Homo sapiens: one gene and its partners. The protein of the gene in region 4 purifies or fractionates together with the protein of the main gene of each other region. This does not show direct contact. Each region holds a gene or a part of one and is shown on either strand. Other genes may lie near its edges.

Region 1 (3,500 bases), on a different chromosome or scaffold from region 4:
TCTGATGTTCCTTTTATTTATAACAATGTTAAATGCAATTGTCTTGTACCTTGAGTTGAGTATTACACATTAAAGTAAAGTACAAGCTGTAAACTTGGGTTTTTGTGATGTAGGAAATGGTTTCCATCTGTACTTTGGTCCTCTGATTTCACATATTGCAACCTAGTACTTTATTAGTTTAAAAAGAAATTGAGGTTGTTCAAAGTTTAAGCAATTCATTCTCTCTGAACACACATTGCTATTCCCATCCCACCCCCAATGCACAGGGCTGCAACACCACGACTTCTGCCCATTCTCTCCAGTGTGTGTAACAGGGTCACAAGAATTCGACAGCCAGATGCTCCAAGAGGGTGGCCCAAGGCTATAGCCCCTCCTTCAATATTGACCTAACGGGGGAGAAAAGATTTAGATTGTTTATTCTTCTGTGGACACAGTTTAAAATCTTAAACTTGTCTTTTTCCTCTTAATGTATCAGCATGCTACCCTTTCAAACTCAAATTTTCATTTTAACTGCTTAGGAATAAATTTACACCTTTGTGAAAATTCATCCCTGCCTATCTTACCTCGTTCCTTTTATGCCAAGTAAGCCAATGTCTTTTTTTTTTTTTTTTTTTTTTTTTAAACCTTGGGAAGTAATGAACTCAGTCCTAGTAACTAGTATTTCTTTAACTATTACCCACATGGCCAACACCTAGAAGATACTATCTTAAAATTGGATTGTGAAATTCACTGGTAAGCTCTCAGGGTTACTTGTGCATCTTTACCTTCTCTGGGTTTAATCCAAGTTCTTTAACTATTGCAGCAGAGACAGCTGCAAAGGCTTCATTGATTTCAAATATGTCAACATCTTCCAGTGACCAACCTGCTTTTGTAACCTAGAGGAAAGATTCATAGAAAAGAGGTCTAAACTTGGGTGGAAAGGCTAAAGTTAAACCATTCTTTGTCAACATAAATATATGCTGCATGATACTGGTAACTGCTACTTTGGTTTGTTCTTAGGTTAATACAGTGACATTCTCACACATTTTTGCCTTAGTGACATCCATTCCATCCAAAAGGTTAAGGGTGTGATCTAAAAGATCCCTTAGAAATTCTAAATTGTCTTAAAATTTTGAACCAGTAGCATCTGTTATGTGTACCTAAGGCTAATGTAACAGAATCAGTTCCCCTAGAAAGCATGTGATCCAAATGCTCTCAGTGGCTGGGGGTAGTGGCTCACACCTGAAATCTCAACACTTGGGGAGCCTAAGGCAAGAGGATCAATTGAACTCAGGAGTTCAAAACCAGCCTGGGCGACATAGACCTTGTCTCTACGAAATGAAGAAGGCGTGGTGCACCTGTAGTTCGAGGTAATGGGAGGCTAAGGCAGGAGGAATATTTGAGCCTAGGAGTTTTGAGGCTGCAGTGAGCTATGATGGTGCCACTGCACTCCAGCCTGGACAACAGAGCAAGACCTTATCTCAAAAATAGAAATAAATGCTCTTGGTTACTCTTCTGGTAGGGAAAGACTAGAGCTAACTACATGAATAAGCTCACTTAAGGCTAACAGGAAGACAAATTTCATAAAAGGGAATAGGGTTATACTCACAGCTTGCTTTATGGCTGGAATTGGTCCTATTCCCATAATGGAAGGCTCCACACCCACTTGGGACCAGGAAACTATCCGTGCTAAAGGTGTAAGCCCACGTTTATCAGCTTCTGACTTCTTCATAAGAACGACAGCTGCAGCACCATCATTTATTCCTGTAAAATATGAGTGACTTAATTTCTACCATGCTTATTAACCTCAGTTACATATCTGTGGCTTCTTTACCACCTGAAGACATGAGTTAAATGATTTTACCTGTTGGCTAAGGCATTTACTATAATTCAACAGACTTTACATAGAAATTATGTTTGGCAATATATTGACCACAAAACTTTCCAACTAGAGAAAGTGGTAGGATTACAGTAGTCGGGGCTGGGCGTGGTGGCTCACGCCTGTAATCCCAGCACTTTGGGAGGTGGAGGAGGGTGAATCACCTGAGGTCAGGAGTTTGAGACCAGCCTGACCAATAGGGTGAAAGCCATCTCTACTTAAAATAGAAAAATCAGCCGGTGTGGTGGTGTGCGCCTGTAGTCCCAGCCACTCAGGAGGCTGAGACAGGAGAATTGCTTGAACCTGGGAGGCGGAGATTGCAGTGAGCCAAGATTGCACCACTGCACTCCAGCCTGGGCGACAGAGTGAGGCTCCGTCTCAAAAAGAAAAAAAAAGGATTACAGCAGTTGGGGAGGGGAGATCTCTGACAGGAAATGGAAGAATAAGCCTGGGCTTCACAAGGAGGTATTGGGAGTTTCTGGTACTGGAAAAATACAAAGGTAGATAAACTGAAGTTCCCTAATTTACTTCTTCATTTGTATGTCTAGTTGGGATGTCAAGAAACCAAATTAATTCTTTCAGTATAGGTTAAGTCAATGATCAAATACAGAGAAATGACATGTTTCCTTAAACTGTTTTAAGAATAATTTTGTACATAAATATTGAGTTGGGTGTGGTGGCTCATGCCTGTAGTCCCCCAGCTACTTGGGAGGTTAAGGCAGGGGGCTCACTTGAGCCCAGGAGTTTGAGGCTGCAAGTGAGCAATGATCATATTGCTGCACACGAACCTGGCTGGCAGAGTGAGTCCCTGTCCCAAAAAATAGTACTTTTGTATATAAATAAAGAGAAAAATATTCACTCGGTAGACATTATAGAACATAGTATTCCCCCAGATGTCCTTCAGAAAATCTAACCTGAAGCATTGGCTGGGGTGACTGTTCCCGTTCCATCAGTAAGAAAGTAAGGCTTTAGCTTGGACATGGCTTCTATGTTGCTCCCATGGCGAGGAAACTCATCTGTTTTAACTTCAATAAGACCTAAGCAAAGGAAAACCAATTACTCAAGATTAGTCCAGAGACAGAAGTAAGTGTGCTGGGAATGGTGGGTTCTCTGCCATTAAACATGAGGATTCATATTTAGCAGAAAAGTTTTAATATGTGACCACTTTGATGACAACAGGAGGAAAGTACACACAAGAATTATTGTACATGAAAACAATTTATGAGTATGTCCTTATGAGACACCTGTGTTTTCCAAATCCATAGGCCTTCCTGAGGAAAGTAGCTACCAGGGACCTGTTTGTGCCAAATTCTGCTATAGTTTGGGTCATAGTACTTGGCTGGTTACGAGTGAGTGGATCAGGCAGTCTCAAAGCCAATCGTGCACTGCTGGCAGGACATAAGAGATATCAGTTATCAATAAGGGAGCTTGACGGGAGCATTCTGTATTAGAAAATAGCGAGTGACCCCAAAAGATCCACCCTTTAGAAATGTGAAATGGAGATCACACAGAAACAGCGAGAAGTAATGGGTGTCCACTTCTGAGGAGGTTGAGCCTATACAGGAAACAGGTCAGCTGGTGCCTCCTAACAACCATGAGCCAGTGCTCCAGCTTCTCATGAAACCTGCTGTGTGTGCACAGT
Region 2 (3,500 bases), on a different chromosome or scaffold from region 4:
TCTTGTGTTGATGAGAACATATGCTTCCCTGATTAACTGAAGTTTTACTATTCAATTAGCAAAACTGTCTGTGGTTACTATGCGAAAAAGCTGGGACAAAAATCCATTATAAGTATGTGGCCATATAAATATCCTCTCCTTAATAATTTCTGAAATTCTTCTCTTTTATTATTATTTTTTTTTGAGATGGAGTTTCACTTCTGTTGCCCAAGCTGGAGTGCAATGGCGTGCTTTTGGCTCACTGCAACTTCCGCCTCCAGGGTTCAAGTTATTCTCCTTCCTCAGCCTCCCAAGTAGCTGAGATTACAGGCATGCACCACCCGGCCGGCTAAGTTTTTGTATTTTTAGTAGAAACAGGGTTTCACCATATTAGCCAGACTGGTCCCGAACTCCTGACCTCAGGCGATCCACCTACCTCGGCCTCCCAAAGTGCTGGGATTACAGGCCTGAACCACCATGCCCAGCCAATAATAATTTCTGAAATTCTAAGCTGAGTTCTTGAACTTAAATTAATAGTTTGCGACCAGGCACAGTGGCTAATGCCGGTAATCCCAGCACTTTGGGAGGCCGAGGCGGGCAGATCACTTGAGGTCAGGAGTTCGAGACCAGCCTGACCAAGATGGTGAAACCCCATCTCTACTAAAATTACAAAGATTAGCCAGGCATGGTGGTGCATGCCTGTAATCCCAGCTACTCAGGAGGCTGAGGCAGGAGAATCACTTGAACCTGGGAGGCGGAGGTTGCAGTGAGCCAAGATCGCACCATTGCATTAGAGCTTGGGCAACAAGAGTGAAACTCCGTCTCAAAAAAAAAACAAAAAAAACAAAAAGAGTTAAGTGAGGCTGGGTGCGGTGGCTCATGCCTGCAATCCCAGCACTTTGGGAGGTGGAGGAGGGCAGATCACCTGAGGTCAGGAGTTTAAGACCAGCCTGGCCAACATGGTGAAAGTGTGTCTCTACTAAAAATAAAAAAATTAGCCAGGTGTGGTGGTAGACACCTGTAATCCCAGCTACTCAGGAGGCTGAGGCAGGAGAGTTGCTTGAACCGGGCGGTGGAGGTCGCAGTGAGCCGAGGTTGCGCCAGTGCACTCCAGCCTGGGCAACAGAGCGAGACTACATCTCCAAAAGAAAAAAAATAGTATGCAGGATAGCTATTAAAAATCAACTTATGGCCGGGCGTGGTGGCTCACCCCTGTAATCTCAGCACTTTGGGAGGCCGAGGTGGGCGGATCACCTGAGGTTGGGAGTTCGAGACCACCCTAACCAACATAGAGAAACCCCATCTCTACCAAAAATACAAAATAAGCTGGGAGTGGTGGCACATGCCTGTAATCCCAGCTACTCGGGAGGCTGAGGCAGGAGAATCGCTTGAACCTGGGAGGCAGAGGTTGTGGTGAGCCGGAGATTGCGTCATTGCACTCCAGCCTGGGCAACAAGAGCAAAACTCCATCTAAAAAAAGAAAATCAAGTTACTTGTGTCTACTGTTCTTTTTTGTTTTTGTTCTTGTTTTTATTTTTAGGCAGGGTCTCACTCTGTCACCCAGACTGGAGTGCAGTGGCATGATCTCATCAAGGTCAACCTCCTGTGCCCAAGTGATCCTCCCATGTCACCCCTCAAGTAGCTGGGACTACAGGCTCATGCCACCACCCCTGGCTTTTTTTTTTTTTTGTATTTTTTATAGAGAACGGTGTTTTGCCATGTTGCCCAGGCTGATCTTGAACTCCTGAGCTCAAACGATTTGCCTGCCTTGGCCTCCCTAAGTGCTGGGATTACAGGTGTGTGCCATCACACATGGCCTTCTTTTCTGTTTAAAATGTGTGTACACACCATATATTTAAGTGTACCTTATACCACATTTTTTGTAGCTATGGAGAGCACAGGTAGTAATAATTGAAATTCATAGGTAATCATAATTTTAGCTCTTAGTTTTGCTCTTCTGCCCCAGTGTAGTCTTCAATCCAGAATTGGTGAATAATTTTGAATATTCTGTCTTTACCCTTAAAAAGATTCAAGAAGTAGTCCTTTGGATTGTGTTCTTGTAGGCATGTTCACCAGATTGATGCAGTGCTGTTGTCTCACCCTGATCCTCTCCACCTTGGTGCCCTCCCGTATGCTGTCGGAAAGTTGGGTCTGAACTGTGCTATCTATGCAACCATTCCTGTTTATAAAATGGGACAGATGTTCATGTATGATCTTTATCAGGTAATTTAAGCAATTAAAAAAATTTTGTTAGCACTCCTTCAGTGATTGTTTTTCACCTTTATTTGTGTTATTCTTTTAGTCTCGACACAATACAGAAGATTTTACACTCTTTACATTAGATGATGTGGATGCAGCCTTTGATAAAATACAGCAGCTAAAATTCTCTCAGATTGTGAATTTGAAAGGTAAAAAGAATTTCCAGTAGTAAGTATTTAGATGAATGGGGTTTAACTTGCTGGAAAATACCGAGGAGAATTCAGAGAGAAAATTATAGGCATTATAGGCTGAAGAATAAAAAAGTTAGCACATTCTGCCTTGATACAGAACTCTTAACTTCCATTTGAATTTTAAAATATTTCAGAAAAAATGCTAACAGAATGTTAATAGCTCAGGCCTTTTCATATTTAACTTGGGAAAAACTCATTTAGTGTTTACTGTGTACAATAAACAAAAGATAATGTGGCCATTTCCTCTTCCTCAGAGCTTACAGTTAGATTGAGGCAACAAAGTAGCTGAGATGGCTAAATGTAGTGATTGGGGTAAATGAAGTGCTATGGCAGCAGAGTAGATAATGAATTCTAGCATTGGACGTTAAAAAGTTTATTATTGAATTAGGAAGTCCTATACTAAGTCTATATTTATCATCTACAGAGATAATTGTATTAGATATTTTCATAGATATGAACCCTGGCATTGATAAAATGGTGCAATAATGGACTCTGAAGATTTAGCCCAGAAATAACAACAGTCTCAACAGTTTTGCTTCTAGTTAATTTTTCTGCAGGATAAATTCTTTAGCACAATGAGATTTAAATTATTCTGTTAGTTTAGACGTTAGCAAAAATGGAAACATTTGGTAACTGTATATACAAAATACACATTAAAATTTGCTAGTTCATACTAAATAATTTAATAGTGTACTAGCTTTTAAATCTAATCTCTAGCCTTGTACTTATAAGCACAAATAACTCTACAAGATTACATAATATAGTAACAAGAATGTTTGCCTCTAGTGAGGGAGTGGAGTAGGTGGGGGACAGGAGAGTGAAGCCTGCTTTCACTATATGCATTTTTACTTTTGAAATTTGTATTATTGCATATACAGTATTACCTATTAAAATATTATAGTTGAGAAATAAATAACCTTTCTTTAGGGTTGTAAAAGAAATCTGAGTATTGTTATCTTGTTGACATAGGTAAAGGACATGGCCTGTCTATCACACCTCTGCCAGCTGGTCATATGATAGGTGGAACAATATGGAAAATAGTCAAAGATGGAGAAGAAGAAATTGTTTATG
Region 3 (3,500 bases), on a different chromosome or scaffold from region 4:
GTCGGGAGGTGTTGGTGTCGGGAGGTGTTGGTGTCGGGAGGTGGGGGTGTCGGGAGGTGTTGGTGTTGGGAGGTGGGGGTGTCGGGAGGTGGGGGTGTCAGGAGGTGTTAGTGTTGGGAGGTGGGGGTGTGGGGAAGTGTTGGTGTTGGGAGGTGTTGGTGTCGGGAGGTGGGGGTGTCGGGAAGTGGGGGTGTCGGGAGGTGTTGGTATTGGGAGGTGGGGGTGTCGGGAGGTGGGTGTGTCGGGAGGTGTTGGTGTTGGGAGGTGGGTGGGTCAGGAGGTGGGGGTGTCCGGAGGTGGAGGTATCGGGAGACGGCGGTGTTGGAGGTGGCGGTGTTGGAGATGGTGGTGTTGGAGGTGGCAGTGTTGGAGATGGTGGTGTTGGAGGTGGTGGTATTGAGAGGTAGCAGTATTGGGAGATGTGGGTATCGGGAGATGGCAGTGTTGGGAGGTGGCGGTATTGAGAGGTAGCGGTATCGGGAGATGTGGGTATTGGGAGATGTGGGTATCGGGAGATGGCGGTGTTGGAGATGGTGGTATTGGGAGATGGCAGGATTAGGTACTGGGGCCTTCAAGAGGCAGCTGGGTCATGTGGCCTCTGCCTTCAGGAATGGATGAATCCATTCATGGATTCATGGATGAAGGGACAGATGGGTTAATGTGGCAGAGGGCCTGGGGCTTTGTGAGGAGGAGAGACCTGGGTGGAACCGGCTCGCTTAGCCCCCTCCCCTTGCCATGTGACACCCTGGCCGCCTCAGGGCTCCAGAGTCCCCACCAGGAAGAAGGCCCTGGCCAGATATGGCCCCTCGACCTGGGACTTCTCAGCCTCCAGAGCTGTGACAAGTTAATTCCTTTTCTTATAAACTACATGGCCTTAGGTTTTCTGTTGTAAGCAGAAGAAAAGGAACTAAGACCATCGCAAGGCGTCTCCTGAGAAATGACGGACCACAAAGGGAAACAGGTCCCGGGGCAGCAGCAGCGGACAGCCCTGGAGACTGTCACCCAACACGCTAGCCACCCGCATGACGGTGTCACCTGGCCACATGGGACTCAAGCCACCTGCACGGGAGACCCCTCAGGCCCGACAAATGGAACGGCACCCCAAAGAGTTAGACACCAAAATCCACAAACATTCGAGTTTGCAGGATGGCAAACGTGAAAAGAAACAGGCAGCTGAAACGCCGACAAGAACAAAACTGGCTGAAACCGGCTGGAACCCACATGAGCCAGCAGAGTCTGTGCAGAACCAGCTGGCTGATGCCAACTGAACTTCCACCGCGCTTCATACAGACTTCCCCAGGATTCACACCCAGGACCCACGAGCTGGCACGGACAGATAACTGTGCGTGCCCAAGGACCTTCCAGACCTCCCCTTTCCTTCCAACAATCACCTGCTAATCCCAGAATCCACCTCTGCACCTTCTCTCATGAAAGTACTGCCTGAAAGCTGGCACAGGAGGCAGATTTGAGCTGGACGCCCAGTCTCCTTGGGAGTCACTTGCAATGAGAAGCTTTTGTTTCCTCAAATCCTTGGTGCCATGGCATTGGCTTCTAGAACATCAGGCACCGAGTCCTTCTGCTTGCTAACACGAGCAGGCAGGAGAAGCAGCCCCACGGGGATGGTGCGGGTGGCCGCGGGGACGGTGCGGGTGGCCGCGGGATGGCGTGGGTGGCTGCGGGAATGGTGCGGGTGATCAGTGCACCCACTGAGGGGCAGGCTGGGAAACGTGCTTTACGGCAGATTGTAGCCCGTCGTCTCTCCTGAGTGCCAGAAGCTGAGGGTAGGATGTGCTGCCCGAGACACGGGAGGGCTGAGCAAGTGGCTGGCAGCCAAGCTTGGCAGTGCCCGACCTGCGAGTGTTCCCTCAGGAAACATACGCCCAGGTGACCACACATCAAGCCACCTGCGGAGGCCTCCGGCCATGAGGGCCTTGTCCCCACCCACCACCTCAGAGGCAACTACATTCAGAGTCTAGAACTGGAGGTTATATTCTATAGCACCCATCAGAATATTCCGGCCTGCCTGGGCACGGTGGCTCATGCCTGTAATCCCAGAACTTTGGGAGGTTGAGGCAGGCAGATCCTGAGCCCAGGAGTCTGAGACCACCCTGGCCAACACGGCGAAACCGTCTCTACTAAAAATAAAAAAATTTGCCAGGTGTGATGGCATACGTCTGTAGTCCCAGCTACTCAGGAGGCTGAGACAGGAGAATCACTTGAACCCGGGGGACGGAGGTTGCAGTGAGTGGAGGTCGCACCACTGCACTCCAGCCTGGGCAACAGAGCAAGACTCCATCTCAAAATAAATTAATTAATTAATTAAATTAAATAAATAAAGGCAGGCAGGAAGTGGGGTCTCAAGGGAAAATTGTGGTTCCCTCAGGGCCATGGCTGAGACTGGCACCCTTGGCCACCCCGTCCGGCCTGGGCTTCCGCCACTGCCAGGGACATTTTCTATCAGGGTGGAATCTTGGTGGGACAGACCATGGCCCTCCCCAAGGAGGGCTCAGAGCTTTTGGCTGTAAACGGCCCTGGAGCGCTTCCGGTGAGGAAAGTCCTCAGCCCAGGGCGGTCAGGTCCACGTACTTCGGCCTCCCGCCGCCCTTCAGCACAGAAGCCCACAGGAGGAAGCGGCGGCCCCCGAGGGCCTGGCAGGCCTGCACTGAGTCCCAGGACCGATGGCCACCCGTGCCCCACTGCTCGGCCCCTACCTAGCTCCTGGAGCGTGAAGGGCAGGAAGGTCGTGTCCTCGTTCAGGTTCTTGTTGAAGTCGATGCACAGAAGGCTCAGCTTCTTCTTGATGCGTTTGATGTTCTGGAGAGAAAGGCGGGGCGTGAGGGGAGGGAGAGACCGGGGCGGGCTCCGCGGGGAGACGCAACGCCTGGGAACCCTCTCGCCGAGGGCTGAGGGATTTCCCCAAGAACCAGGCCGAAAGAAGAGGCAACCGAGGAGGAAAGAGTGAGACGGGAGGCGGAGGACAGACAGACACGGAGGCCACGAGGCTGCGCAGTGTGGATTTCAACACCAGCTGCGGCATCCAAAGCTGGGTGACCTCGGGCAACCTCAGGGATGTGCTCCGGTCTGTCAGGTGTGGCCCTGGCCAAGAGTGCTCCAGACCCTCCTATCCATTAAGGAATCACCTTCAGAGCCTGCAGCCTAAGCTTTTCAACATTCTTCTGAGACAGGGACTCGCTCTGTTGCCCAGGCTGGAATGCAGTGGCATGATCTCGACTCACTGCAGCCTCAACCTCCCAACTCAATTGATCCTCCTGCCTTAGCCTCCTGAGTAGCTAGGACTACAGGTACACGCCACTACACCCAGCTAATTTTTGTATGTTTGGTACAGACGGGGTTTCACCATGTTGCTCAGGCTGGTTTCGAACTCCTGGGCTCAAGCAATCCTCCCACCTCAGCCTCCCAAAGTGCTGGGATTACAGGCATGAGTCACCGTGTCTGGCAGCTTTTGAACATTTTACCCCTTATCTGGTAAAGCTGGTTTT
Region 4 (5,347 bases):
AAATAAACGTGAAAATGCTAAAATTAAAATTCCTGACATTCAGTCATAACCACAGATCCTGACGGAAACATGAGGTTAAAGCAATAAAGTCAACTGTTGGTTGTGACTGAGAGGGTGACGGAGGCCCAGACACAAGGCATACCACAGGGAGCACACGTGAGAAACAACAAGCCTAAAATGACTTCCTTACCAATTCAGACAACATACAATAAAATATGTTCCGTCAAAGCACAAACAAGGGCCGGACGCGGTGGCTCACTTGAGGTCAGGAGTTCGACAACAGCCTGGCCAACATGGTGAAACCCTATCTCTACTAAAAATACAAAAATTAGTCATGGTGGCACACGCCTGTAATCCCAGCTATTCGGGAGGCTGAGGCAGGAGAATTGCGTGAACCCCGGAAGCGGAGGTTGCAGTGAGCCGAGATCGCGCCATTGCACTCCAGCCTGGGAAACAGAGCGATACTCTGTTTCAAAAAAAAAAAAAAAAATCGCACAAAGAAGCCCAGGATCAGCGTGATCACAGCAGCCAAAGGAGACAGCCTGCCTCCCAACACCAACAAGAACTCACCACCTGCTGGACGTTCCTTTAAGTTAGCCTATTTAAAAACAAAATGCAGTTTGTTTTTCCCCCAACAAAAGGTTCACGAATGGCAAAAAGGCTATTTAGCAACAGAAGCAGTATTTCTCCCAAACTGATGCAACCGACAGGGCAGCCAGCTTGCGACTCAACAGCGTTTCTTACATAAAAGCAAGGACAGCTTGGAAAACACTCCTGACACCAACAGGCTTCGCCTGAAGGGCCAACGCCTTTGTAAACTAATCTTCCAGACAAGTATTTGTCTGGTATGCCAAACAACTGTCTTTACAAGTACCAAAAATCTATCAGAGGGCTTGTAATCCCAGCACTTTGGGAGACCAAGCAGGTGGATCACTTCAGCTCAGGAGTTTGAGACCAGCCTGGCCAACATGACAAAACCCCGTCTCTACTTTAAAAAAAAAATAAAAAAATAAAAAAAGCCAGGCGTGGTGGTGCGCGCCTGTAATCCCAGTTACTCCGGAGGCTGAGGCTGGAGAATCGCTTGAACCCGGGAGGTGGAGGTCGCAGTGGGCCCCGTGATGGTGCCACTGCACTCCCGCCTGGGTGACAAAGTGAGACTCTGTCTCAAAAAAACTCCAAAAAACTATCATAAAGAAGCCATCAGGCGGGGCATGGTGGCTCACGCCTGTAATCCCAACACTTTGGGAGGCGGAGGAGGACGGATCACTTGAGGTCGGGAGTTTGAGACTAGCCTGACCAACATGGAGAAACCCCGTCTCTACTAAAAATACAAAACTAGCCAGGCGTGGTGGCTCATGCCTGTAATCCCAGCTACTTGGGAGGCCAGGAGTTCAATACCAGCCTGGGCAACACAGTAAGACCCTGTCTGTAAAAATAAATAAATAAATAAGGCCAGGCACGGTGGCTCACGCCTGTAATCCCAGCACTTTGGGAAGCCAAGGCAGGCAGATCACCTGAGGTCAGGAGGTTGAGACCAGCCTGGCCAACATGGTGAAACCCCGTCTCTACTAAAAATACAAAAAAATTAGCTGGACATGGTGGTGCATGTCTGTAGTCCCAGCTACGCAGGAGGCTGAGGCAGGAGAATCGCTTGAACTCGGGAGGCAGAGGCTGCAGTGAGCCGAGATCTTGCCACTGCACTCCAGCCTGGGCGACAGAATGAGACTCCGTCTCAAAAAATAAAATAAAAGAAAAAAACAAAAAAACAAAAACAAAAAGCCACAAAACAAACAAACAAAAAACCTAACTGGTTCCAAGGGGACACTTTAATCCTTGGAGCACCAAGCGCAGGAGGCTCTGTGGAAACGTACGGCGGAGTCTTCTGGCGCTGCCCTGAAACATGAGGACTCCCAGGACTCTGGTATTTGAAACAATTTAGTCTCTAACACCAAAGATGATCACCCCAGAGAACGCTAACATGTCGACACTTACTATCACTTGGATTTATCAGGAAAATAGAGTCCACGCTGATTTTCAATAGGGTGAAATTGTTACTGTGTCTGTTTTTAGAGACAGAGACTTGGTTTGTCGTCCAGCCAGGAGTTCAGTGGCGCAGTCACAGCTCACAGTCATAGCTCACCACAGCCTCAACCTCTTGGGCTCAAGTGATCTTGCTGCCCCGTCTCCCAAGCAGCCAGAATGACAGGCATGTGCAACCACATGTGGCTAAGTTTTAAAATGTTTTGTAATGATAGCGGGTCTCACTGTGTTGCCCAGGGCTCAAACTCCTGGGCTCAAGCAATCCTCCTCCCTCAGCCTCCCAAAGTGCTGGACTATAGGCCGAAGAGCCACCTTGCCAGGCCCAAAATTTTTAAAAGGGGCGAGGTTCACTGATCAGCTAGCTACTGTGCCTGCTCAGTTAACTACAATTCCTTCTGACAATTTTATTTCAGCTTTCCTGTGCAGTTTTATGTAGCCCTACCCAACTGCATACAATTTTCCTGCTTTTTTCACTTACCATAAGCATTTCCTACGCTTTTCACATCATTTTTAACGCCTAAAAGACTCTCTAAATCTGACTTTCACAAGCTTTCCCAGTGTAACAGAAAAGCACTATCACACAGAGTTTCTGAGTATTAAAACTCTCTAAATAAACCCAAATCAATAGACAAAGGACATAAACAGGTAATTTTCAAAAGCAAAAATGCTCTGGGTGCGGTGCCTCACACCTGTAATCCAAATGCTTTGGGGCGCTGAGGCAGGAGGATCGTTTTAGCCCAGATATTCAAGGGTGAAGTGGTGAGCTATGATCACGCCACTGCACTCCAGCCTTACTCTGGCTTGAAAAAAAAAACAAAAAAAAAAGGGAAAATGACAACAGACATAAATTCCAACTTCAATAAGGCCAAGCTAGAAAACCGAGACATGGAAGAACACCCTGCCGACCAGAGGCCAGGAGAAGTGGAGTGAAATTTCCTAAGAGTCTGAAGGATTTCCTGCCCGTTACCCCCGAGACCCCAGTCATGACATGGAGGAAGAGCCACATGCAAGATGGACACAAGCCACAAGCTGTGCTGTGAACCTGGGCACTCAGCGCCAATGCCACCAGTCTGTGAGTCTCTGCAGGGACCCCCCCCACCCCAAAATCGGACTGCCAAATTCTCCCGTTTGACTGGGGTATTATAGAAAATTATTTGTATGAATAATGAAAATAAGCCATCTCGTGGCAAAAAAAGGAAACTAATGATGTGAATACTAACTATGGAGCAGACAACAGAACAAGAGCTTATCCCCGATGCATGCGTGAACACATGGAGACAGACGGACACCAAAATGGTACCTCTGAGAGACCACTTTCATTTTCTACAGTAAGAATTTCTGCAACAAGCAGGCTGGGCGTGGTGGCTCACGCCTGTAATCCCAGCACTTTGGGAGGCCAAGGCGGGCAGATCACGAGGTCAGGAGATCGAGACCACCCTGGCCAACACAGTCAAACCCCATCTCTACTAAAAATACAAAAAATTTGGCCGGGCGCGGTGGCTCACGCCTGTAATCCCAGCACTTTGGGAGGCCGAGGCGGGCGGATCACGAGGTCAGGAGATCGAGGCCATCTGGCCAACACGGTGAAACCCTGACTCTACTAAAAGCACCAAAAATTAGCCGGGCGTGGTAGCGGGTGCCTGTAGTCCCAGTTACTCAGGAGGCTGAGGCAGGAGAATGGCATGAACCCGGGAGGCGGAGGTTGCAGTGAGCTGAAATCGCGCCACTGCACTCCAGCCTGGGCGACAGAGTGAGACTCCATCTCAAAAAAAAAAAAAAAAAAAAAAAAAAAAAAAAAAAAAAGTTAGCTGGGAGTGGTGGCAGGCGCCTGTAGTCCCAGCTACTCGGAGGGTTTGAAGGAGAATCGCTTCAACCTGGGATGCAGAGGTTGCAGTGAGCCAAGATCGTGTCATTGCACTCCAGCCTGGGCGACAGAGGGAGACTCCGACTTCAACAAAAAAAAAAAAAAAGGAAATTGAAGGTCTATGTCTAAATTAACTTCATGATATCCATATTCATGATATCCATAATAGATGTCACCTTAAATTTACTTCCTTTTGACTCTCTTCTGAGTCTACTCTTTTATGAGTAAATTTGAATGATGGCGGCACAGGTAAAAGCACACCCAAGAATTCATTATTCAGAGGTGCTCTCCGCTCCTTTTCCAGAGACCACAGCTCTGCCAGCAACGGCCACTGGCCACTCTGAACTAAAAAGGACTTGGTCATCTTCAGTCATCGTCTCAGCGAGGTTATGACTGGCATGTCTTTAAAGTAGCCGCTAAACCTGATTTTATTAACAAGATAGCTAAATAATTTTTTTTTTTGAGACAGAGTCTCGCTCTGTCACCCAGGCTGGAGTGCAGTGGCCGGATCTCAGCTCACTGCAAGCTCTGCTTCCTGCTTCCCGGGTTCACGCCATTCTCCTGCCTCAGCCTCCTGAGCAGCTGGGACTACAGGCGCCCGTCACTATGCCGGGGTCATTTTTTTGTATTTTTTGTAGAGACGGGGTTTCACCATGTTAGCCAAGATGGTCTCGATCTCCTGACCTCGTGATCCACCTGCCTCGGCCTCCCAAAGTGCTGGGATTACAGGCGTGAGCCACCGCGCCCAGCCCTAAATAGAATTTTTAAAACATTTCCTTTTGTTAAGATTTCTACTCCATCTTGCCAGGCGCAGTAGCTCACGCCTATAATCCCAGCACTTTGGGAGGCCCACGCAGGCGGATCACGAGGTCAGGAGATCGAGACCATCCTGGCTAACATGGTGAAACCCCGTCTCTACTAAAAATACAAAAAAATTAGCCGGGCGTGGTGGCGGGCGCCTGTAGTCCCAGCTACTCAGGAGGCTGAGGCAGGAGAATAGTGTGAACCCAGGAGGCGGAGCTTGCAGTGAGCTGAGATAGCACCACTGCACTCCAGCCTGGGCTACAGACTCCCCCTCAAGAAAAAAAATATATATTCTACTCCAACTTTATTTTATTTATGTATTTATTTGAGATGGAGTCTTGCTCTGTCGCCCAGGCTGGAGTGCAGTGGCATGATCTCGGCTCAATGCAAGCTCCGCCTCCTGGGTTCATGCCATTCTCCTGCCTCAGCCTCCCGAGTAACTGGGACTGCAGGCGCCCGCCACCACGCCCGGCTAATTTTTTTGTATTTTCAGTAGAGACGGGGTTTCATCGTGTTAGCCAGGATAGTCTCAATCTCCTGACTTTGTGATCCGCCCATCTCGGCCTCCCAAGGTGCTAGGATTACAGGTGTGAGCCACTGCGCCCGGCCTACTCCATCTTTGTTATGCAGGTACAGCAG

What was found. The genes of interacting proteins can lie anywhere in the genome.
Region 1: the proteins of SSU72 (region 4) and ACAT2 fractionate together in Homo sapiens (co-fractionation; one large-scale study listed by BioGRID). This does not show direct contact.
Region 2: the proteins of SSU72 (region 4) and CPSF2 purify together in Homo sapiens (affinity purification with mass spectrometry; one large-scale study listed by BioGRID and IntAct). This does not show direct contact.
Region 3: the proteins of SSU72 (region 4) and THOP1 fractionate together in Homo sapiens (co-fractionation; one large-scale study listed by BioGRID). This does not show direct contact.

Annotation. Positions count from the first base shown.
Region 1 is NC_000006.12:159,775,545-159,779,044, reverse strand, and holds part of ACAT2 (acetyl-CoA acetyltransferase, cytosolic), read right to left. Parts: intron 2,896-3,500; coding exon 2,773-2,895; intron 1,744-2,772; coding exon 1,589-1,743; intron 876-1,588; coding exon 765-875; intron 548-764; exon of another isoform or gene 387-547; coding exon 216-386; 3' UTR 1-215. UniProt on the Homo sapiens protein: Involved in the biosynthetic pathway of cholesterol.
Region 2 is NC_000014.9:92,131,969-92,135,468, forward strand, and holds part of CPSF2 (cleavage and polyadenylation specificity factor subunit 2), read left to right. Parts: intron 1-2,042; coding exon 2,043-2,202; intron 2,203-2,281; coding exon 2,282-2,387; intron 2,388-3,398; coding exon 3,399-3,500. UniProt on the Homo sapiens protein: Component of the cleavage and polyadenylation specificity factor (CPSF) complex that play a key role in pre-mRNA 3'-end formation, recognizing the AAUAAA signal sequence and interacting with poly(A) polymerase and other factors to bring about cleavage and poly(A) addition.
Region 3 is NC_000019.10:2,799,003-2,802,502, reverse strand, and holds part of THOP1 (thimet oligopeptidase), read right to left. Parts: intron 2,815-3,500; coding exon 2,712-2,814; intron 473-2,711; exon of another isoform or gene 1-472. UniProt on the Homo sapiens protein: Involved in the metabolism of neuropeptides under 20 amino acid residues long. Involved in cytoplasmic peptide degradation. Able to degrade the amyloid-beta precursor protein and generate amyloidogenic fragments.
Region 4 is NC_000001.11:1,567,440-1,572,786, forward strand, and holds part of SSU72 (RNA polymerase II subunit A C-terminal domain phosphatase SSU72), read right to left. Parts: intron 1-5,347. UniProt on the Homo sapiens protein: Protein phosphatase that catalyzes the dephosphorylation of the C-terminal domain of RNA polymerase II. Plays a role in RNA processing and termination. Plays a role in pre-mRNA polyadenylation via its interaction with SYMPK.